Regions from separate parts of the Homo sapiens genome. Here region 2 is linked to region 1. The links come from fine-mapping of genetic effects on gene expression. A gene starts in region 1. The other region holds a variant in brackets. All regions are shown on one strand. Distances are from middle to middle.

Region 1 (8,000 bases):
CTTTAGCCTGGCGCTCGAGGCCCCAGCCCATCACCCCACAGAAACCCAGACCCACTGTGTCCATCTTGGTGGTCCCCAAAGCACCTCCTCTGGACTTTTGCCTCTGCTGTGGCCTCTGCCGGAGATGCCCTGTAATTCTATACATTCTAGCTCAAGTGTCCCTCCTCCAGGCAGTCCTCCCTGCTCCACTTCAGGGCACCCGGCCTCCATCTGTTCCTGATCCCAAGGGGCTAGGGGCGTCTGTGTCCAGCTTTTCACCTCCCCAGCCCTGTATCTCCCTCCCTCGATGTTTTTCCAGCAGCTGCCAGGCAGAGGCCACTGGGGAACAACAACAATGACTAATCACACTGGCCAGCGGGTGGACAGCGCTCACTGCAAGCCAAGCCCTCCTTCATACTCACAAAAGCCCATTTTGCAGGTGGGAAAGATGAGGCCTGAGAGGGCCAACCTTGGTGCGGGTGGGGGAAGCCCTGAGGCACGGTCTCCACTCTGGAAGGGGCAAAACTATACTCCACAAGGGGTGGTTTGAATCCATCTCTTCATCTCCAGCTGGGGCCTCAGGTGGTCTGAGTGCCCCTGGACTCAGTTTCCCAATCTGTGAAATAAGGCAAGTGAGGGACTCTCCAGGAATTGGTGGAGTTGGGAGGGTCTCAGGATGGTCAGGAGGGGGCCATGACTTTCCTCTGATCTCTACCTATTTCCTCCACCTTTCTTGTTATTTTTTGAGCAGGGTCTTGCTCTGTGGCCCAGGCTGGAGTGCAGTGGCGCAATTAGAGCTCACTGCAGTCTCGACCTCCCTGGCTTAAGCCTCAGCCTCCCAGGTAGCTGGGACTACAGGCACCTGCCACCATGCCCAGCAAATTATTTTTTGTAGAGATGGAGTCTCACCATGTTGCCCAGGCTGCTCTTGAACTCCTAGCCTACAGCAATCCTCCTGCCTTGGCCTCACAAAGTGCTGGATTACAGGCATAATCCACCCTGCCTGGCCTCCTCCATCTTTATGTATCTCTCTATCTCTGTCCCTTTCTCTGTCTCTGCCCCTCCCCCAGGCCTCACACATCCATCCCCCAGCTGACCCTGGCCTGGGCCCCGGGGCCAGAGAAGGCTGTCCTGTATGGGGTCACAGGGCCCCCGTCCCCACTGTGCCAGGCCCAGGACACTGAGTCTTTGTCCCTAACTCACTGACCTCATAGCCTGCTGGGCGCCTGACCCTGGCCAGCTCAGCTGCCCCTCGGAGCCAGGCTTCTTGAAGGAGGGACCTCCTCCCAGGAAGCTGAACCGCATTGCACAACCCTGGCCACTTGGGCCTCAGTTTCCACAGATGCTCATCCCCAGGAGAGACCCTCTCCTTCTCCCTCCTCAGTGCCCCTGGACTCTAAGAATATTTCTTTTTTCTGTAGATGCATCTCACGTAACCTAAAATTCATCTTTTTTTTTTTTTTTGAGACATAGTCTCACTCTCTCACCCAGGTGGGAGTGCAGTGGTGTGATCTCGGCTCACTGCAACCTCTGCCTCCCGGGTTCAAGCGATTCTCCTGCCTCAGCCTCCTGAGTAGCTGGGATTACAGGTGCATGCCATCACGCCCAGCTAATTTTTGTATTTTTAGTAGAGACTGGGTTTCACTGTGTTGTCCAGGCTGGTCTCGAACTCCTGACCTCAAATGATCCACCTGGCTCGGCCTCCCAAGTGCTGGGATTGCAGGAGTGAGCCACCGCGCCCGGGCCGGAAATTCATCATTTTAAAGCAAACGATTCAGTGACATTTAGCACATTCAGTGTTGTGCAACCACCACCTCTATCTGGTTCCAGAACATTTGCATCACCCCAAAAGGAAACCCCGCATACATCAGCAGTCACTTCTCACTCCCGCCTCCCCCCAGCCCCTGACAACCACTCAGCTACTGTCTGCCTCTGTACATTTGCCTATTTTGGATATTTTATATAAGTGGAATCATACAGTGTGTGCCTTTCCTGTCCATCTTCGTCCACCCAGCATGATGGGTTTTTTTTTTTGTGTATGTGTGTTTTTTTTTTTTTGAGATGGAGTCTCACTCTGTCACCCAGGCTGGAGTGCAGTGGCACGATCTCAGCTCACTGCAACCTCTACCTCCCAGGTTCAAGTAATTCTCTCTGCCTCAGCCTCCCGAATAGCTGGAATTACAGGCACATGTCACCAGGCCTGGCAAATTTTTGTATTTTTAGTAGAGACAGGGTTTCGCCTTGTTGGCCAGGCTGGTCTCAAACTCCTGACCTCAGGTGATCCGCCCACCTCGGCCTCCCAAAGTGTTGGAATTACAGATGTGAACCACTGCACCCAGCCCAGCATTATGTTTTTGAGGGTTCATCCACATGGTAGCTTGGATCAGAGCTTCTCCACTGACATTTAGAGGCTTTGCCGACAGTGGGGAGGGAGGGGCAGGAAACAAAATACTCAGAGGCTAAGAAATGGAACATGGGGGAAAGACTAAGTTGCATCTCTTAAATTTTTTTTTTTTTTTTTTTAAGAGACAGGATCTTGCTCTGTTACCCAGACTGGAGTGCAGTGGCACAATCACGATTCACTGCAGCCTCAACCTCCTGGGTTCAAGCCATTCTCCCACCTCAGCCTCCTGAGTAGCTGAGAATACAGATGTGTGCCACCACGACTGGCTAACTTTTAATTTATATATATATATATATTTTGAGATGGAGTGTCACTCTGTTGCCCAGGCTGGAGTGCAGTGGCGCGATCTCGGCTCACTGCAACCTCCACCTCCTGGGTTCAAGCGATTCTCCTGCCTCAGCCTCCTCAGTAGCTGGGATTACAGGTGCCTGCCACCACACCCGGTTAATTTTTGTATTTTCAGTAGAGACAGGGTTTCACCATTTTGGTCAGGCTGGTCTCAAACTCCTGACCTCGTGATCCACCTGCCTTGGCCTCCCAAAGTACTGGGATTACAGGCGTGAGCCACCGCGCCTGGCCTAATTCTTTATTTTTTATAGAGATGGGGTCTTGCTATGTTGTTTAGGTAGACCCAAACTCCTGGGGTCAAGTGATCCTCCCACCTCGACCTCTCAAAGTGCTGGGATTAGAGGGGTGAGCCCAGGTGCACAAGGCTGGAGCTTGGCATGTGGGGAGGTGGGCATTGTGGAGGGCCAGCATGCTGCAAGCTCTTTGTAACAATTTGTTGGAAGGATGAAATTAGGCCATCCAAGAACACTGCCCTCCTTCAGCTCTTGAGTCTCAGATTCAGAAGCTGGCGAGATGGCCCGGTGCGGTGGCTCACGCCTGTGATCCCAGAATTTTGGTAGGCCAAGGCGGACGGATCATTTGAACCCGGGAGTTTGAGACCAGCCTGGGCAACATGGCAAAACCCCCTCTCTTAAAAAAAAAAAAATGCAAAAATTAGCTGGGCGTGGTGGTGCATGCCTGTAGTCCCAGTTCCTGGGGAGGCTGAGGTAGGAGGATGGCCTGAGCCTGGGGAGGTTGATGTTGCAGTGAGCCGTGATTGCACCACTGCACTACAGCTGGGCCACAGATCAAGACCCTATCTCAAAAGAAGAAAAAAAGAATTTGGCAGCCAGGCACGGTAGCTCACGCCTGTCATCCCAGCACTTTGGGAGGCTGAGGTGGGTGGATCACTTAGGGTTAGGAGTTCGAGACCAGCCTGGCCAGCATGGTGAAACCCTGTCTCTACTAAAAATACAAAAATTAGCTCGATGTTGTGGCAGTTGCCTGTAATTCCAGCTACTCGGGAGGCTGAGGCAGGAGAATTGCTTGAACCCGGGAGGCAGAAGTTGCAGTGAGTGGAGATCATGCCACCACACTCCAGCCCGGGCGACAGAGCAGGGCTCCATCTCAAAAAAAAAAAAAAAAATTGGCTAGAGAGGGCCAGAGACCTGGCCAAGTGCATGGAACCACAGGTGGCCCATGGGCCCATGGGGCTGGCATCTGGGTGTTCAGTTCAGGTCTGGGGCCAGCAGGGCAGAACCCCCTAGAACCCTGACTTGCTCCAAAGTCAGACTTGCTCCAGAGTCTGTGGCCGCCACCATCACCACCACCACGGAGCTGACTTCCTGGGTTTCTCTTTCACTTTGACTTGCCTTAGGGATGGGCTGTGACACTTTACTTTTTTTCTTTTTTCTTTTTTTTCAGTCTTTTCTCCTTGCTCAGCTTCAATGTGTTCCGGAGTGGGGACGGGGTGGCTGAACCTCGCAGGTGGCAGAGAGGCTCCCCTGGGGCTGTGGGGCTCTACGTGGATCCGATGGAGCCGCTGGTGACCTGGGTGGTCCCCCTCCTCTTCCTCTTCCTGCTGTCCAGGCAGGGCGGTGAGTCCCCTGACCCTGGCATGGCGGCTCCTCTTGCTGGGTGGAGGCACGTGTATGTGTGGAGAGCTGTGGGCCTGCTGTGTGGGTTGGTTTCATCTCTCTGTGCCTCAGTCTTTCCTGCTGTCAAATGGGAGATGGGCAGTCATGGCTTCTGGGATCGAACTTAGACATCTTTCCTCTGGTCTAGATTTTCTCTTCTGTGAAATGCACTAAATTTTTTCCACCTCCCGGAGTTCAATGAGAAAAAAAACTAAGGAAGGAATAAAAAGCAAGTATGTATCTAATAGGTATACATAGTATAGTATCTTATGTATGTAGTTTACAATAGATAGACATACATAATATAATGTATACAGTCATTTCCATATTTACGGGGCAATGGTTCCAGGACCCTCTGCAGATACCAAAATCCAAAGATGCTCAAGTTCCTGATATAAAATGGTAAAGTATTTGCATATAACCTATGCACATCCTTCCGTATACTTTACTTATTTATTTATTTATTTATTTATTTATTTATTTATTTATTTATTTACTGAGGTAGGGTCTCACTCTGTGTCCCAGGCTGGAGTGCAGTGGCCTAATCATAACTCATTGCAGCCTTGACCACCTGGGCTCAAGTGATCCTCCTGCCTTAGCCCCTTGAGTAGCTGGGACTGCAGGTGCACACTACCATGCCTGGTTAATTTTTTTGGTGTATACTTTTTACAGAGACAGCGTCTCGCTGTGTTGCCCAGGCTGGTCTCGAACTCCTGGGCTCAAATGATCCACTCACCTTGGCCTCCCAAAGTGCTCAGATTACAGGCATGAGCCACCATGCCCAGCCTTCCCATATACTTTTAATAATCTCAGGCCCTGCACGGTGACTCACTCCTGAAAATCCAGCACTATGGGAGGCCAAGATGGGTGGATCACTTGAGGTCAGGAGTTCGAGACCAGCCTGGCTAACATGGTGAAACCCCATCTCTACTAAAAATGCAAAAATTAGCCAGGCTTGATGATGGGCACCTGTACTCCCAGCTACTTAGGAGCTGAGGTGGGAGGATCGCTTGAACCCAGGAGGCAGAGGTTGCAGTGAGCCGAGATTGCAGCACTGCATTCCAGCCTGTGTGGCAGAGCAAGACTCTATCTCAATAATAATAATAATAAATAAACTTTCCTTCTCTGTACACTGGGGATCAGCGGGGTGCTGACTTTTTCAATGGCTCTTGAGATGCACTGAGTGCCTGTAGAATGCCCACAGCAGTGCTGGCCACACCTCAAGGTCCCAGCGCCTTCAGGGGCCAGGCATGGCTGGAGACCAGCAGCAGGGAGGGGGCGAGAGGCAGCCCACGAGGTATCCTGGAGATAGTGGCAGTGAGTGGTCAGTCCAGGGAAAGGGAAGGAGGATGGGCTTTAGGCTCTCAGGGGTGGGTGGGTGGGTGGGGGTTCTGTGTCATCACAGAGAGAGATGGAAGGATGGAGAGCCTTGTGTGTTAAGCATCTTTCCCCCCTCAAGGTTGGACACTTGGGGCTGTTTCCTGGGGTGCCGCCTTCTCCCCCAAGGCTTCCAATCTGCCTGCAGGGCTCAGGACAGGTCCTTCTTGTGGGAGTGAGGGCGCCGGGGTCTTCCTGACCCATCCATGGTGGCATCCCCCTCCTTCTCTCACCCAGTTCCACACCTAGCAGACTGTGGCAATCCCAAAGGGCACGGGGATCCCAGTGGCTGAGGGAGGTCGCTGCCTCCTGGAGAAATGTTATTAATAATTGCCCTGACTGCTAGTGGGCCAAGTGTGCTTGCCTGGGCCAGCCCTGGCAGGCCTCTCCCTGCCATGCACCCTCTACTGTCTTTCCCCATGCTGGCTTCAGACACTGGTGCCACCCCAGGCACACCTCCACTTCTCTCTGCCCTCCAGACTGTTGGTCTTACTGTTCTTTCCTGCAGGGGTACCTCCCGAGAGTGTCTCCCAAATATGCATCTCAACCTCTGAGGACTAAAGGGTGGTGGATGAATGGATAGACAGGTGGATGGGTGGGTAAATGAATGGATGGATGAATTAATAAATACATGTATGTATGTATGGATGGATGGATGGATGGATGGATGGATGGATGGATGGCTGGATGGATATATCGGTAGGTAGATAAATGGATGGATGGGTGGGTGTATGGATGAATGAATACGTGGATGGATAGATGGATAGATTGGTGACTAGATGGATAGATGGATGGTTGGGTGAATGGATAATGGATTAATGAATGCATGGATGCATGGATAAATACATGGATGGATGGATGGATGGATGGACTAATGAATACATGGATGGATGGGTGAATGGGTGGATGGTGGGATGGATGGATGGATGGATGGATGGATTAATACATGGATGGATGGATGAATGGACGAATGGACGGATAAATGGGTGGATGGTGGGGTGGATGCATGGATTAATACATGGATTGATGGATGGATGGATGGATGGATGGATGGATGGATAGATGGATGGGGGGTGGATGGATGGATGGATGAATACGTGGATGGATGGACGGATGGTGGGGTGGATGGATGGATGTATGAATACGTGGATGGATGGATGGTGGGGCAGATGGATGGATGAGTAGATGGATGAATGAACACATGGATGGATAGATGGATGGGTAGATGCGTGGATGGATGGATGAATACATGGATGGATAAATACATGGATGGATGGGTAAATGGGTGGATGGTGGGGTGGATGGATGGATGGATGGATGGATGGATGGATGGGTAGATGGGTGCATGGATGGATGAATACATGGATGGATGAATACATGGATGGATGGGTGAATGGGTGGATGGTGAGGTGGATGGATGGATGGATAGATGGGTGGATGGATGAATGAATACATGGATGGTTGGATAGATGGATGGGTAGATGAGTGGATGGATGGATGAGTACATGGATGGATGGATGGGTAGATGGGTGGATGGTGGGGTGGATGGATGATGGATGAATACATGGATGGATGGATGGATGGATGGATGGATGGATGGGTGAATGGATGAATTCATGGGTGGATGGATGGGTAGATGGTGGACGGATGAATAAATACATGGATGGATGGGTAGATGGGCAGATAAATACATGGGCAGATGGATGGATGGGTGGTGGTAGGAGGGTGCATAGATGGGAAAGTGGGTGGGTGGGAGGGCTGATGATCACTTGGGTGTAGACCCCAAGGCTGAGCCCTTCTCCCCACACAGTGCAAGGCCAGGAATGTCATTATGTCTTCATTGCCTTTGCAGCTGCCTGCAGAACCAGTGAGTGCTGTTTTCAGGACCCGCCATATCCGGATGCAGACTCAGGTTCGGGGCAGTTCCTCATTGTTGGCTGAGGATTATGTAGGGCTCTGCCTGACCCCATCCACAGCGGCCCCTCCCATGGCCTCCACCACCAGGCCAAAGACCCAGCCCTGCCTGTGGTCTTGGGAGTCCCCACCCCACCACCTGCTGGCCCATTCTTACCAGGTTCAAGTTGCCCTGGAGTAGCCAGCCGCCTCTCTGAACATTATCACTTCCCTAGCATGGTCTCAGGGCTGGTGTCTGTGTCCGTTCAGATTGGTCGGTACATGGGAGAAAGTACCTGTTAAGCATTTTGAAGCCCCCCCCCCAACCTGATAAATTATTAGAACATTTATTTCATTTATTTATTTTTGAGACGGAGTCTTGT
Region 2 (16,099 bases), 35 kb after region 1:
CACTGCACTGTCAACCACACCATCTGTGAAAAGAGGGAGGGAAATTTCCCAAAGACAGATGGGAGTGCTCTTCCTAAGAGGGGCTGAATGGGAGTCAGTGCGGCAGACTCCATCCTCAAATCGGTCTCAGGATATATGGAGTCTCGCTCTGTCACCCAGCCTGGAGTGCAGTGGCGCCATCTCGGCTCACTGCAACCTCTGATTCCCGGGTTCAAACGATTCTCCTGCTTCAGCCTCCCAAGTAGCTGGGATTACAGGCGTGCGCAACCAAGCTCAGCTAATTTTTGTATTTTTAGTAGAGATGGGGTTTGGCCATGTTCTCCAGGCTGGTCTCAAACTGCTGACCTCAAGTGATCCACCCGCCTCAGCCTCCCAAAGTGCTGGGATGACAGGTGTGAGCCACTGCACCCGTCCAGGTCTCAGGATGTTAGAGAATTTAACCAGCAGTGACCTGGTCCGTTCCATCCTGCTGTGGATGGGAAGTAGAGCTCTGCTCACAGCTGTGGCCCTACCCTCCCTCTGCAGACTTGGCAGTGGATCAACCCAGTGGACTTCCAGGAAGAGGCATCCCTGCAGGAGGCCCTGGTGGTAGAGATGTCCTGGGACAAAGGCGAGAGGACTGAGCCTCTCGAGAAGACAGAGCTACCTGAGGGTGCCCCTGAGCTGGCCCTGGATACAGAGTTGTCCTTGGAGGATGGAGACAGGTGCAAGGCCAAGGTCCTGGGGCCCAGTGGGCCAGACGGTCAGGGGTGCAACCCTGCCCGGGGGGTGGGGGGGCTAGACATCCATCGCTCCTGGGATATCAGGGCCTGGAGGCCTGAGGGAGAAACGAAAACATCCACTTTGTCTTACAGACACGAAGAGCGACTATCTCAATCACAACGGCTGGTTATTAAGCACTTATGGCATACCCAGCCCATTCCATCCACTCACATGATTCCCTACCAAATCCCTACAACCACCCCCTGAAAGGAACCATGACTGTTGTACTTTACAGATGTGATCGTTGAGGCTCAGAGAGGGTGAGTGACTCGCCCGAGGCTACGTAGCACACACAGGAGTCACATTTGGACCCAAATAACCCAGAGCTCCTCCAGGCTCCAGTGCACCTGCCTCCTCTCTGCCCCGTGCCTGTTGCCACCCATCCTGCGGGGGAACCCTAGATGCTGCCATGAAATGGAAGCTGCTGCACCCTGCTGGGCCTGGCATCCGTGGGGCAGGAGCAGACCCTGCCATTTACCTGTTCTGGCGTAGAATGGACTGGGAATGGGGGCAAGGGGGGCTCAGATGGATCCCTGGACCCTGGGCTGGGCATCCACCCCCAGGAGCACTGGATGGGGAGTCTGGACTCAAGGGCTCCCTGCAGCATTGCGGGGTCTTGTAGCTTGGAGGATCCAGGCATATAGGGAAGGGGGCTGTAAACTTTGTGGGAAAAATGACGGTCCTCCCATCCCACCCCCCACCCCACCCTCACCCCCCTATAAAATGGGGGTGGTGATAATGACCTTACACAGCTGTTCAAAATCATCGTAAATGAGCCTCCTCTTGGGTATTTTTTTCCTGTTTGAAGCTTGAATGTCCTGCTCAAAATCTCAAAACACGAGCCTTGGAATTCATTCATTCATTCATTCATTCATTCCACATATATTTATTAATCTCTTCCTCTAGGTCTCCTCCAGGAGCACCTAATCCGGGGGAGACAGAGCCGGATGAGAGCTTGGAACCCTACTAAGTTAGGACTGAGCAGGGGAAGGGACGGCCTAGGGGGAGTGGAGCAGCCGGGCACTCCGGTAACAGGAACCGTGGTTTGCCCCCACGCTCCTTCCTCCTCACGCCCACCAACTCGCAGCAGGACCCTTGCCCCCCTTACACACCCTGAATCCTCCCTCTTTCTGCCCACACTGCCCCACCTCCCTCGCGTTCTGCAGCCGCCTCCCCCTGATCCCCACTGCGGTCTGAGCCGAGGTGTGGGGGGGGGCTCCTGAAATCCCACCCCAGCCCTGGCGATTAGCGGGTAGTCCAGATTCTCCCCATGGCCACCAGGTGGCAACAGCGGCGCGCGTTTCCCCGGCCGGGCCCGCCCTGCCTCCTCCCACCGCGTTTGCTAAACAGACTTTTCCGGTTTCAGACAGAGGAGGGGAGTTAAAAAGCCCAGAACTACTGAATTTTGTGGCAAAAAAAGGATGAGACCTCTCGGGGAGAGACCCCTGGCAGCCAATAGGGCCAGGAGGCAAGAGGCCCAGGCCCCGCCCCTTTGGTCTGGGGGCCTCCCTTTCCCCATCGATGCATCTAGATAGGGAAACAGAGGCCTGGATCTCGGTGCCCCAGCCACACGGTGGCTGGTCAGAGTTCTGCAAATGCCCCCCGCCCCGCTCCGGATCTGCCACATCCCAGCTTCTGCTCAAGCCGTTCCCTCCACCAGGCATGCCCTCCCTTGAGCGTTTATCCTCCTTTCTTTTTTCTGAGACGGAGTTTGGCTCTTGTTGCTGGAGTGCAATGGCGCGATCTTGGCTCACGGCAACCTCCCGGGTTCAAGCGATTCTCCTGCCTCAGCCTCCCAAGTAGCTGGGATTACAGGCGCCCGCCACCCTGACCAGCTAAAATGTGTTTGTATTTTTAGTAGAAACAGGGTTTCACCATGTTGGCCAGGCTCGTCTTGAACTCCAGACCTCAAGTGATCCACCCGCCTCGGCCTCCCAAACTGCTGGGATTGCAGGTGTGAGCCCTGGAGGCCCCTGGAGTTGGCTGCAAACCCACCCCTATGCACAGTCCCTTGGGTGCGAGAAGTAGGAGACAGGCAATGTTTACTGGCAGCAGCTGGGACTTTTGCCAGAGTGCATGGGGAAGATGCACACCCTGCTTCCACTAGCGGGAGACTGAGCTGGACAGAGGGAAGCCTGGAGCTTGGAGCCTCTTTCCTTCCTACCGTGGGGATGCCTGTCTGAGAGAGGAGCCTGCAGGGAGGACAGCAGCACCGAGATGAAGCATTAGTTCCTGGATCCAGCCATACCTGAAACCCAATATTTTCCATCTGGTTCCTGTTTTTAAAAAATATTTTAGGCCGGGCATGGTGGCTCACGCCTGTAATCCCAGCACTTTGGGAGGCAGAGGCGGGCTGATCACCTGAGGTCAGGAGTTTGAGACAAGCCCGGCCAACATGGTGAAACCCCGTCTCTACTAAAAATACAAAAATTAGCTGGGCGTGGTGGCAAGCGCCTATAATCCCAGCTACTTGGTAGGCTGAGGCGGGAGAATCGCTTGAACCTGGAAGGGGGTGGTTGCAGTGAGCCGAGATTGTGCCACTACACTCCAGCCTGGGCGACAGAGCGAGACTCCGTCTCAAAAAATAAATAAATAAATAAATAAATAAATAAATATTTTTTTTTATTTTTTGTTTCTTTTTTGAGACAGGGTCTCACTCTGTTGCCCAGGCTGGAGTGCAGTAGCACCATCTTGGCTCACTGCAACCTCCACTTCCTAGGATCGAGTGATCCTCCAGCCTCAGCCTCAGGCTCAAGCCTTGTTGCCAAGGTTTTGCCATGTTGCCCAGGCTGGTCTCGAACTGCTGAGCTCAAATGATCCACCTGACTTGGCCTCCCAAAGTGCTGGGATTACAGGCATGAGCCACTGCACCCGGCCTCAGTTCCCTGTTTGATGAAGCCACTTTGAGTCCTTCTTCTGTCCCTAGAAAATGACCAACAGGAGGTTCTTTCTGGGCCTCTGCTTACCCGTCTATAAAATAGGAAGGGATTTGGAGTCCTTTTCTCAATGGGCCCAGCAAGTTTGCTTAGCTGGGCCCTGGCCTGGTATTTATTGAGCAACTGCTATGCAACTATTACTCCAGGGCTCCTCAGAGCAGCCATTGCCTCAGCTTCTCCCAGCAGCTCCAGGAGTCAGGATGGTGTTAGCCCCCATTTCACAGCTCAGTTTCATTCATTCATTTAAGAAATCAGGGTC[C/T]GGCGCGGTGGCTCACACCTGTAATCCCAGCACTTTGGGAGGCCAAGGCGGGCCGATCGCTTGAGCTCAGGAGTTCGAGGCCAGCCTGGCCAACATGGTGAAACCCCGTCTCTACTAAAAATACAAAAATTAGCCAGGTTTGGTGGCACATGCCTGTAGTCTCAGCTACTTGGGAGGCTGAGGGCTGAGGTGGGAGAATCACCTGAACCTGGGGAGGTCAAGGTTGCAGTGAGCTGAGATCGCGCCACTGCACTCCAGCCTGGGTGACAAGGTGAGACCCTGTCTCAAAAAAAAAAAAAAAAAAAGCCAGCATTGAGTGCCTACTGTATACCAGGCCCCATCTTGCACAAGTCAGGATCTTCCTGGTCATAAGGGGCTCTTAGCTGGGTGGGGAAGGCAGACACTAATCTAATTATCACTCAGAGAGTTATGAGAAACCGTAAGAGTGATGAGTGGGGATGTGAGGAGTAGCCAGTGAGGGAGGGCTTCCTGGAGGAGGCAATGCTAGGACCAAGGTGGTAAAGAGGGGCCAGAAGAGGGAGTGCAAAGGCCCTGAGGTTGCTGGTGGGGAATGGACGGGGGATGGGGGAAGAGGTTGTAGCCCACGTGAGGCTGGGGGCATATGGACCAGAGCTGTTTTTTTTCTTTTGAGATGGGGTCTCGTTCTGTCGCCCAGGCTGGAGTGCAGTGGCGTGACCACAGCGCACTGCAGCCTCGACCTCTCGGGCTCAACTGTTCCTCCTTCCTCAGCCTCCTGTGCAGCTAGAACCACAGGCACGTGCCACCACGCTCAGCTTAGTTTATTTGATTATTTGTAGAGACAGAGTCTCACCATATTGCCTGGGCTGATCTCAAACTCCTAGGCTCAAGTGATCCTCCTGTCTTGGCCTCTCAATGTGCTGGGATTACAGGCGTGAGCCACTGTACCCGTGGGCTAGGTTTTTTTTTTTTTTGAGATGGAGTCTCGCTCTGTTGCCCAGGCTGGAGTGCAGTGGCGCGATCTAGGCTCACTGCAAGCTCTGCCTTCCGGGTTCACGCCATTCTCCTGCCTCAGCCTCCCGAGTAGCTAGGACTACAGGCGCCCGCCACCATGCCCGGCTAATCTTTTTCTGTTTTTAGTAGAGACGGTGTTTCACCATGTTGGCCAGGATGGTCTCGATCTCCTGACCTCGTGATCCGCCTGCCCCGTCCTCCCAAAGTGCTGGGATTATAGGCGTGAGCCACCGCGCCTGGCGGGCTAGGGTTTTATTCTTGGGTTGTGGGGTCCTGGAGCTGGAGAGTCAGGTCCTGACGGGTGAGAGGTTCAGAGTTTATTCTGGCTGCAGTTCAGCTGGGAGTAAGTGATTCATCTTGTGGGCCTCAGTTTTCTGGTCCATAAAATGGATGTGGTCAGGCAGCCTCTCCAGAGCCCCTGCCCCTCTTCCCACCTCCCCTCCTCTGTCTCTGTCTTTCCTGATCCATCTTTTCCCTTCTCCATGGCTCCCACCTACTGGGTGGGAAGCGTGTCTCCATCAGAGAGATAGGCTGCCTCAGTTTACCTTCCCAGGTACCTTCCTTCTCTATCTCTCCAGTAGCCTCTGGGTTTGGTCAGAAACAGATGTTGTCTCTGCCTCTGCCCTTCAGCCGGGATGGGACTGAGGTGTCAGGTTTCTGGGAACCATGAGCTGCAGGAGATGACCCCTGGACTCAGGGTAGCCCCTGGCCTGGCCCCTGATACTTTATTATCTGTGCCCCAGATGCCAGGCCCTCTGCCCAGGAAGGCCCTTCTTCCAACTCTGCCCTCTGCCCATTTCTCTCTCTCTCTTTTTTAACTCATTTCTTTCATTTAAAAAAAAAATTTAAAGTAGAAACAGAGTCTTGCTATGTTGTCCAGACCAATCTTGAACTCCTGGGCTCAAGCAATCCTCCTGTCTCAGCCTCCCAAACTGTTGAGATTATAGGCACGAGCCACTGAGCCCCAGCCTTATTCCTCTTTTTTTTTTTTTTTTTAGATGGAATCTCACTCTGTCGCCCAGGAGGCTGGAGTGCAGTGGCGTGATCTCGGCTCACTGCAACCCCACCTCCTGGGTTCAAGCAATTCTTCTGCCTCAGCCTCTGGAGTAGCTGGGACTGCAGGCACCTACCACCAAGCATGCATGGCTAATTTTTGTATTTTTGCTAGGGACGGAGTTTCACCATGTTGGCCAGGCTGGTCTCAAACTCCTGACCTCAGGCGATCTGCCCACCTTGGCCTCCCAAAGTGATGGGATTACAGGCGTGAGTCACTGCGCCCGGCCATTCCTCCTTTTTTAAGATACATTCACACACCATACAATTCACCCTCTTAAAGTGTACAGTTGACACTGAGCGTGGTGGCTCATGCCTGCAATCCCAGCATTTTGAGAAGCCGAGGCAGGAGGATCACTTGAGCCCAAGAGGTTGAGGCTGCAGTGAACCGTAATTGCACCACTGCACTCCAGCCTGAGTGACAGAGTGAGACCCTGTCTCAAAAAAAAAAAAAAAAAAAAGTACAATTCAGTGGTTTTTGTACAATCACAAGGTTGTGCAGCCATCACTCATACCTAATTCTAGAACATTTTCATCTCCCCAAAAAGAAAACCTGTGCCATCAGTAGCCACTCCCCGTTCCCCTCCCCCAGCCCCTGGCAGCCACTAATCTGCTTCCTGTCTCTATGGATTTGCCTGTTCTGGGCATTTCATATCAATGAAATCATACAATATGTGGCCTTTCTGTCTGTTCTTTTGTGAAAGAAACTCAGATGTTTTTGAAACGCATCCTCATTATAGTGTGTGTCAGGGTTTCGTTCTTTTTGATGGCTGAATAGCATTCCATTGTGTGGATGTGTCACTATTTATTTATCCACTCAGCCATCAATGGACATTTCGGTGGTTTCCATTTTCTGGCTATTGTGGATAGCGCAGCTCTGAGAGTTTGTGTACAAGTTTTGGCGTAAACACCTGTTTTCAGTTTTCTCCGTATACATCTAGGAGTGGAATCACAGAGTCATATGGTAATTCTGTGTTTAACTTCTGGAAGATCTGCCAAAGTTTTCCACGTCAGCTGTACCATTTCACATTCCCTCCAGCAAGGCATGGGGGTTCAAATTTCTCCACATCCTCATCAACACTTGCTATTTTCCTTTTTCTTTTCTTTTTTTTTTTTTTTTTTTTGAGACAGGATCTCACTCTGTCACCCAGGCTGCAGTGCAGTGGCGTGATCTCGGATCACTGCAACCTCTGCCTCCCGGGTTCAAGCGATCATCCTCGTGCTTCAGCTTCCCAAGTAGCTGGGATTACAGGCTCTTGCCACCATGCCCGGCTAATTTTTGTATGTTTACTAGAGACAGAGTTTCACCATGTTGGCCAGGCTGTTCTGGAACTCCTGAGCTCAAGTAACCCTCCCACCTCAGCCTCCCAAAGTGTTGAGATTACAGACGTGAGCCACTGCGCCTGGCCTCCTTTTTCTTCTTATCCTTCTCCTTCTCCTCCTCCTCCTTCTTCTTCTTTTTGATGTTCTGATGCCAAGGCTGGAGTACAGTGGCGTTATCTTGGCTCACCACAATCTCTGTCTCCCAGATTCAAGCGATTCTCCTGCCTCAGCCTCCCAAGTAGCTGGGATTACAGGCGTTAGCCACCATGCCCGGATAATTTTTGTATTTTTAGTAGAAACAATGTTTCACCATGTTGGCCAGGCTGGTCTTGAACTCCTGACCTTGAGTGATCTGCCCGCTTCAGCCTTCCAAAGTGCTGGGATTACAGGCGTGAGCCACCATGTCTGACTGGATTATTTATCTTTTTGACCCTTATCAGATACAAAATTTGCACATATATTCTCCCATTCTGTGGGTTGTCATTTTTTTTTTTTTTTTTGAGATAGAGTCTCCCTCTTTTGCCCAGGCTGGAGTGCAGCAACGCAATCATAGCTCACTGCAGCCTCGAACTCCTGGGTTCAAGCGATCCTCCCACCTCAGCCTCCCCAGTAGCTGGGACTATACAAGCACACACCACCACACCTGGCTAATTTTTAAATATTTTTTGTATAGACAAGGTCTCATCTCACTATGTTGTCCAGACTGATCCTGAACTCCTGGACTCAAGCGATCCTCCTGCCTCAACCTCCCAAAGTGCTGGGATTACAGGTGTGAGCCACTGTGCCAGGCCTCTCTTAATAGTGGCCTTGCAGAAGAAAAGTCTTGCATTGTGTGGAGTCGGGTTGATCTATTTTCCTTTGCTGGCTTGTGCTTTGGGTGTGCTACCTGAGAATCCTCCTGATCTTGATAAACCCCTCTTGCGGGCACCTCTCCCCATCCTCCCCGCCCCCAGCCCCCACCTCTGGCCTGTCCCTCCCCCCTCCTCCCCTCCCCACCTCCCGCCCCGGTTTGGGGCACTGGCCTCTGGCTCTGTCCCCGATCCATCAATGTTTAATAACTGAGTGGACAGAACCTTGGCGGAGACGTGGAAACCCCGCCCGGCCCCATGCGCGACGCGCCTCCACGGGCTGTGCCGCGATCACGCAGAGCCCCGCTTTCCAGGTGGGGAAACTGAGGCACCGGAAGATTGGGATGGGGACGCGACCTGCCTGGTCCCAGTGGTCGGGGCCACGGCCAGGCTTCCTCCCCGAGTCCTCCCCACCTTCCCTGGCCTGGAGCTGCTCCTGGCTCCCGTCCCCGCCCTGGGCTGACCCTGCCAGCGGGAACCGCCTGCTCCCCGGGGCGGTTCCTGCCGAAACCAAAATACCCAGGAGGAGGAAAAAAAAAACACCCGCCGGGCGGGCTGGGGGTGGGGGACGGGAAGAGGGGCGGGTTTCTCCTCCGGGTTGGAGACTGGAGGGGCCAAGGGTCACACAGTCAGTCGACAAACGTCTCAAGGATCCAGCCGAGTCCTGGCTCTGCTTCCAACTGCCTGTGCAGCCAGGGCTTCTCCGAGCCTCAGTTTCCCCATCGGTGCAATGGGGTAGTTAACCCCCCGGGGAGGCCTATGAGAGGTGAGAAGGAGCTAGGTGAACGAGGTGCCCAACCCTCCAAGATATCATCACCTTTAATAATATTAAACCTTATGTGCTGGGATCAGGAGCTCCAGGCAGGGGGCTCCTCTGGCCGGGTAGGAGGGCCCTCTTCTCCCAGTGGCTGGTCTTGTACCCCTAACCTCTTTTTTTTTTCTTCTTAACCAACTAAACAGGAGTGATCTTTATTTTATTTTATTATTATTCTGAGACGGAGTTTTGCTCTCCTTTCCCAGGCTGGTGCGATCTCGGCTCACTGCAATCTTCACCTCCCAGGTTCAAGCGATTCTCCTGCCTCAGCCTTCCGAGTGGCTGGGATTACAAGTGCCCGCCACCATGCCTGGCTAATTTTCATTTTGTTTTATTTTGAGACACTGTCTCTGTCTGTCACCCAGAGGCTGGAGTGCAGTGGTGTGATCATAGCTCACTGCAGCCTCCTGGGCTCAAACAATCCTCCCACCTCAGCCTTCCAAGTAGCTGAGACCGCAGGTGTGTGCCACCAAGCCCAGCTAATTTTTGTATTTTTTGTAGAAAGAGCACTCACTCTGCTGCTCAGGCTGGTCTCAGATTCCTGGCCTCAAGCAGTCCTCCCATCTCAGCCTCCCAAAGTGCTGGGATTACAAGCATGAGCCACTGTGTCCTGGCCCCACCCCCAGCTTCCTATTTCCTTCCTCCCTCCCTGTCTCTCCCTATCTCTCATTTCTCATCTCTTCCTGTCTCTCTGTCTCTATTTCTCTGACTTGCTTTTATTTTTTTTTTTAATTTTTTTTTTTTTAATTTTTTGAGACAGAGTCTCACTCTATTGCCCAGGCTGGAGTGCAATGGCGTGATCTTGGCTCACTGCAACCTCCACCTCCCAGGTTCAAGAGATTCTCCTGCCTCAACCTCCCAAGTAGCTGAGATCACAGGCGTGCGCCACCCTACTATGCTAATTTTTGTATTTTTAGTAGAGACGGGGTTTCACCATGTTGGTCAGGCTGATCTTGAACTCTCTGGCCTCAGGTAATCCGCCCTCCTCGGCCTCCCAAAGTGCTTGGATTACAGGAGTGAGCCATCGCACCTGGCTTGTCTTGCCCCTCTTTGTCTCTTTCTCCCTGTGCCCCTCTCTCTCTATCTTTGTGTTTTGTCTCTCTGTCTCTCTCCTTGTCTCTTTCTTTGCCATCTTTTTTTTTCTTTTTCTTTTTGTAGAGATAAGGGTCTCATTATGTTGCCCAGGCTGGTCTCTAATTCCTGGCCTCCAGCAATCCTCCCCCCTCAGCCTCCCAAAATATTTGTGTCATCTTTCTCTTTATCTCATTTCTCATCTCTCTCCCTGTCTCTCTCTCTGTCTCTTTGTCTCATCTCTCTGTCTCACTTCTGTCTCTCTGTCTCTGTCTCCCTGTGTCTCCCTTTCTCTCTTTCCCTGTTTCTCTGTGTCTGTCTCTCTGTGTGTTTCTGTCTCATCTCTCTCTGTCTCTGTTTCACCTGTCTCTGTGTCTCCCTGTGTATCTCTCTGTGTCTCTGTCTCTCACTGCCTCTGTCTCTCCTTGTTTCTCTGTTTATTTGTCTCTTTTTTTACTTTTGGAGACAGAGTCTCGCTCTGTGGCCCAGGCTGGAGGGCAGGGGCACAATCTCTGCTCACTGCAACCTCTGTTTCCCAGTTCAAGTGATTCTCCTCCCTCAGCTTCCTGAGTAGCTGGGATTACAGGCCCCCCACCATGATGCCTGGCTAATTTTTGTATTTTTGTAGACACGGGGTTTCACCATGTTGGTCAGGCTGGTCTCGAACTCCTGACCTCAAGTGATCCACCCGCCTCGGCCTCCCAAAGTGCTGGGATTACAGGCGTGAGCCACTGTGCCCGGCCCCACTTCCATTTTTAGGTGGGGAAATAGGGGCTTATTCCTGAAGAGTCTCGTGCAGGTGTCCCAGCCCCAGTGGCATCATGGTCACCCTGGTCCAGCTGCTGGGCTCTGTGGCTCTCCGGCTGTCCTGGGCCTCCCATTCTAGGGGCCTGTCCCATAAATGGTCAGCCCAGAAGGTTCCACCCTCACATACTGGATGGTGACACCCCCACCTCCCAGAGCTAGTTTTCCAGCAGGCAGTCTGGCGGGAAGCCCAGGCCACTTCCCCGTGGTGTTGGCTGCTGCCCGGTGCAAGCCGGGAATGGGGACCGGAGGTGACGTTTAGGGCTAGGCTTTGGGCTCAGGTTTTTTTTCCTCTTCCTTTTTTTTTTTTTGGTATATAAACTATTTGTTTTTTTGCGACAGTCTTGCTCTTTCGCCCAGGCTGGAGTGCAGTGGCATGATCTCAGCTCACTGCAACGTCTGCCTTCCGGGTTCAAGAGATTCTCCTGCCTCAGCCTCCAGAGTAGCTGGGTCTACAGGCGTGTGCCACCACACCTGGCTAATTATTTGTATTTTTAGTAGAGACAGGGTTTCACCGTGTTAGCAGGATGGTCTCAATCTCCTGACCTCATGATCCGCCCACCTCGGCCTCCCAAAGTGCTGGGATTACAGGCGTGAGCCACCGCGCCCGGCCATAAACTATTTATTAACAGATAAGGCCTACAGACTTATTTCTTCTTGGATACACCCACGGTACAGGTACGGCCATGGCGGCCAATGGTCTCGGTGTGCTGGCCTCAGACATGAAGGCCCCAGAAGTGGTGCATCCCTCTATGGGCCGGAATCTTCTTCGGTTGCTCCAGGTCTTCACGGAGCTTGTTGTCCAGACCACTGGCTAGGACCTGGCTATATTTTCCATCCTTTACATCCTTCTGTCTGTTCAAGAGCCAGTCTGGGATCTTGTACTGCTGTGGATTCTGCACAATGGTGATCACTCATTCCATCTCATCCTCCGTGAGTCTCCCGCCCTCTTGGTGAGGTCAATGTCTGTTTTCCTCAACACCACATAAGCGTATCTTCCATCCACACCTTTAATGGCAGTGATAGCAAAGGCTATTTTCCACCACCCATCGATGTTGGTGTTGAGTACTCCCAAAATATGCTGGAACTTTTCAAGGATCACTAGAGACACGGTGGCAGGCTCTGGGGTTCCATACCAGGCACCAGGATCATATTTGGGGTATGGAAGCCCCACATTGCCCTCATCCTCTCTGGCTTTCGTCATGGGGGTGGTGGGCATGAGGAGGAAGGGACCCAGGCCTTTGGCATGAGGTTCCCTTCTTCAGCAAGCCCCCCACTTCCTGGATCGCTGGGGACCCCCAGCCCTGGGTACCTCCCTCCAGCCTAGCCTTGACCCTGTGGGAACAAGAATATCTCTATCCAGCCTGGACCTTCCCAAGCTGGGGCCTCGAGCATTACCCCAAATAAGGCAGGCACCTGGATGTGGCCAGGAATGAATGAACATGAATGAACAAATGAATCGTATATAATCTTACAAACTCAGAAACGTAAGGCCATACAAATCTAAATCTGGCCAAGGTTGGTGGCTCAAGGCTGTAATCCCAGCAGTTTGGGAGGCCGAGGCTGTAGGATTGTTTGAGCCCAGGAGTTCGAGACTAGCCTGGGCAATGTAGTAAGATCCTGTCTCTCCAAAAAATTGAAAAAATGTAGCTGGGCATGGTGGCAGGTGCCTGTAGTCCCAGCTACTCAGGGAGGCTGAGGTGGGAGGATCGCTTGAGTCCAGGAGTTTGAGGCTGCAATGAGCTATGATCATGCCAATGTACTCCAGCCTGGGTGATAGAGCGAGACCCTGTTTCTAGAAAATAAATAAGTTTTGTTTGTTCATTTGTTTGTGATGAAGTCTTGCTCTGTTGCCCAGGCTGGAGTGCAGTGGCAGGATCTCGGCTCACAGTAACCTCTTCCTCCTGGGTTCAAGCGATTTCTCCTGCCTCAGCCTCTGTAGTAACTGAGATTACAGGCGTGCGCCACCACACCTGGCTAATTTTTGTATTTTTAGTAGAGACGAGGTTTCGCCATGTTGTCCAGACTGGTCTTGAACTCCTGACCTCAAATGATCTGCCCACCTCGGCCTCCCAAAGTGCTGGGATTACAGGCGTAAGCCACCGTGCCTGGATGATAAGTAAATATTTTTTTACATTAAAAAAATGCCTAAACCTGGATTTTTAGCACGTTGCAGGGGGCTCCCACCCAAGCCCAAGTTCTCAGAAGCTGGGAAAGGAATAATGCATCTCGGGGTGGAATGTTTGATGACCCCCAGCAGAGTGCCATCTCAAGAGCAGGGGTCTAGAGCCAAGGCTCAGGGTTCTAATCCTGCCTCTGCCTGGAAAACCACTTCGCCTATATGAGCCTCAGTTTCCCCATCTGTAAAACAGTGTTGGTACCCATGTCTTGGGGTTTGGGGTTAGTAAATGAATCTGTGGGAAGCCGAGTCAGGCCTATCGGTGTCTGTAGGTGGTGGAGCCTCTTCCCTCTGACAGGGATGGAAATTATAGAGATAAAATCAAAGAGAGGCCGGGTGCGGTGGCTCACGCCTGTAATCCCAGCACTTTGGGAGGCCAAGACAGGCAGATCACTTGAGGTCAGGGGTTCAAGATCACCCTGGCCAACATGGCGAAACCCCGTCTCTACTAAAGATACAAAAATTAGCCCAGTGTGGTGGTGTGTATCTGTAATCCCAGCTACTTTGGAGGCTGAAGCAGTAGAATTGCTTGAACATGGGAGGTAGAGGTTGCAGTGAGCAGGGATCGTGCCACTGCACCCCAGCCTGGGTGACAGAGTGAGACTCTGTCTCAAAACAAACAAACAAACAAACAAAGAGAGAGATGGAAGGTCAGGTTGCATCAGGAGGAAGCTGGCAATCTCTGTGACTCAGGGAGGTGCGGGGGCTCCCTCCTGGACCCTGGTCACCTCTGAACGTTCCACTGGTTTCTTCCAGTTTCTCCTTTACTGAGATCCCTCTGTCCCCAGAGTCTCAGTTTCCTCCCTTGTGAGATGGGCTCACACTGGTGCCCCTGAATCTTCTTCCTCCACCCATCCACCATCAAAATTGCTCCCACATCCGATCCCTTCTCATGAAGGTCCCTTCTCCCTGGTCCAGACTATCATTGCTCCTTAGGACCAGCAGTGGCACCCCTCTGTGGTCTCCTCGCTTCTCCCTTTATCCCCCACAGATACCCCCACCCTGGTATCCTGAGTCCGGCTTGTCCTTCTTCTGTCTAGAAGCCTCTGTGGCTCCCACCTTCCTCAGAGTAAAAGCCAAAGTTCTCCCCCCAGACCTCAAGGCCCTGCTTGGTCTCACGGCACCATCGCCTCTTCCCTCCCCACCCTGCTTAATCGACTTAGGCCACCTCAGCCTCCTCCAAGCTCCTCCGGTGAGTCAGACAGGCTCCTGCCTCGGGGCCTGTCTAAAGGCTGTGCTTTCCCGGGGACCATCTTCCCAGAGACGCCCATATGTCTCCCCTACCTCCTTTGGGTCTCAGTTCAATTGTCATCGTCACCCACACTCTCTCTCCCTCCTCTGCCATCAGGAATTTGTATCTCTGCCAGGCGCGGTGACTCATGCCTATAATCCCAGCACTTTGGGAGGCTGAGGTGAGCGAATCACTTGAGGTCAGGAGTTCAAGACCAGCCTGGCCAACATGGTGAAATCTCATCTCTGCTGAAAAATACAAAAATTAACTGTGTGGTGGTGGGAGCCTGTAGTCCCAGCTACCAATCCCAGCTACTTGGGAGGCTGAGGCGGGAGAATCACCTGAGCCTGGGAGGTGGAGGTTGCAGTGAGCTGAGATTGTGCCACACTGCACTCCAGCTTGGGCAACAGAATGAGACTCCGTCTAAAAAAAAAAAAAGAAAGAAAAAAAAAAGAATTTGTATCTCATTCATGGTGGTGTCGCTGGCTCCTGTACACAGCCGGGGCTTAATGAGTGTGCTCACAGATAATAATCTTATGCTGATAAAAAGAAATGTTTCCCCAGATGCCTGCTGTGCTTTAGGCCCTGGGCTGTGGTCTGGGGACACAGCCGGGGACAACTGAGAGCAATCTTGCCCTTGTAGGACTCATGGTCTGGGGACAAAGGTGGGACCCAGAGGACATTATGCACCTGAAGCGATGCATCTGTAATGTGGAATCAGGTGTTGAAAAGTGTGATGAATAAAGTAGAATACATGACCAGATGCAGCAGAGGGAGGGTGTTTCCTGATCAGGCAGTCCTGGAGGGCTTCCTGGAATAGGCGACATTTGGGGCCAAGGCCTGAATGAAGAGAGGGACATGCCCCTTTGCAGCAGCTCTGGTGGCCATGTGTTTCTCACTAGTTCACAGATAAGGAAACTGAGGCTCAGAGAGGTGAAGTCACTTGTCCAGCATCCCCAAATCCAAACTCCCCAGCCAGGAGCCTGCAATCCCCTTTCCCCATGGTGCCCAGTTGCAGATGGGCAAACCAAAGTCCAGAGCAGCGCCTCCACACCCCAAGGTCTCCCAGGAAGCTACTCGGCCCTCCTCCACCCTCCTTCTCCTCCCCCGCGCAGCTTTACTGGGGGACTTTCTCACAGGGAGGAAAAACAGCGACAGCTGGTTTCACAAGTAGGTGGCCCAAGCCGCAGACCGGTTTCGGTTTGCAAACAACTTCTGGCTCTGACTGCCTGCTGCTGGGCTGAGCAAACCCAGAGGTAAGAGCCCCGTATCAATCCATAAGAGGAAATGGGCACCAATCTGTCAGCTCAGGGTCTGGCTCATGGGCAGCAGGGCCAGGAGATGGGGGTGCACTGAACCCTCATCTCCACTTAGTCTTTTTTTTTTTTTTTTTTGAGAAGAGTCTTGCTCTGTCGCTCAGGCTGGAGTACAGTGGCGCGATCTCAGCTCACTGCAACCTCTGCCTCCCAGGTTCAAACTCACTGCAGCCTCAGCCTCCAAAGTAGCTAGGACTACAGGCACACGCCACCACGCTTGGCTAATTTTTGTATTTTTAGTAGAGACAGGGTTTCACCATGTTGCCCAGGCTGGTCTCAAATTCCTTACCTCAAGTGATCTGCCTGCCTCAGCCTCCCAAAGTGCCAGGATTACAGACATGAACCACTGCGCCCAGCCTCCACTTATTTTTTATTTTATTTTATTTTTTTTGAAACAATCTCACTCCATCACCCAGGCCGGAGTGCAGTGGCGTGATCTCGGCTCACTGCAACCTCCGCCTCCCAGGGTTCAAGCAATTCTCCTGCCTCAGCCTCCTGAGTAGCTGGGAT

Evidence for each region.
Region 2: its variant is fine-mapped to the expression of IL12RB1 in whole blood (TOPMed, PIP above 0.99).

Annotation. Positions count from the first base shown.
Region 1 is chr19:18,083,068-18,091,067 of GRCh38, reverse strand. It overlaps IL12RB1 (interleukin 12 receptor subunit beta 1), which reads left to right and starts at 4,134. Exons shown (of 17, transcript NM_005535.3): 1 at 4,134-4,308; 2 at 7,577-7,636. The coding sequence starts at 4,245. RefSeq lists enhancers at 3,803-3,862, 3,873-4,222.
Region 2 is chr19:18,044,512-18,060,610 of GRCh38, reverse strand. IL12RB1 (interleukin 12 receptor subunit beta 1) reads left to right here. Exons shown (of 17, transcript NM_005535.3): 16 at 526-717; 17 at 998-1,616. The coding sequence ends at 1,003. It also overlaps the pseudogene RPS18P13. Among named protein-coding and RNA genes, the nearest start is that of IL12RB1, 34 kb to the left of the region's middle. RefSeq lists an enhancer at 8,543-9,044 and a silencer at 11,082-11,243. The variant C/T (reference allele first, on the strand shown) is at 3,958.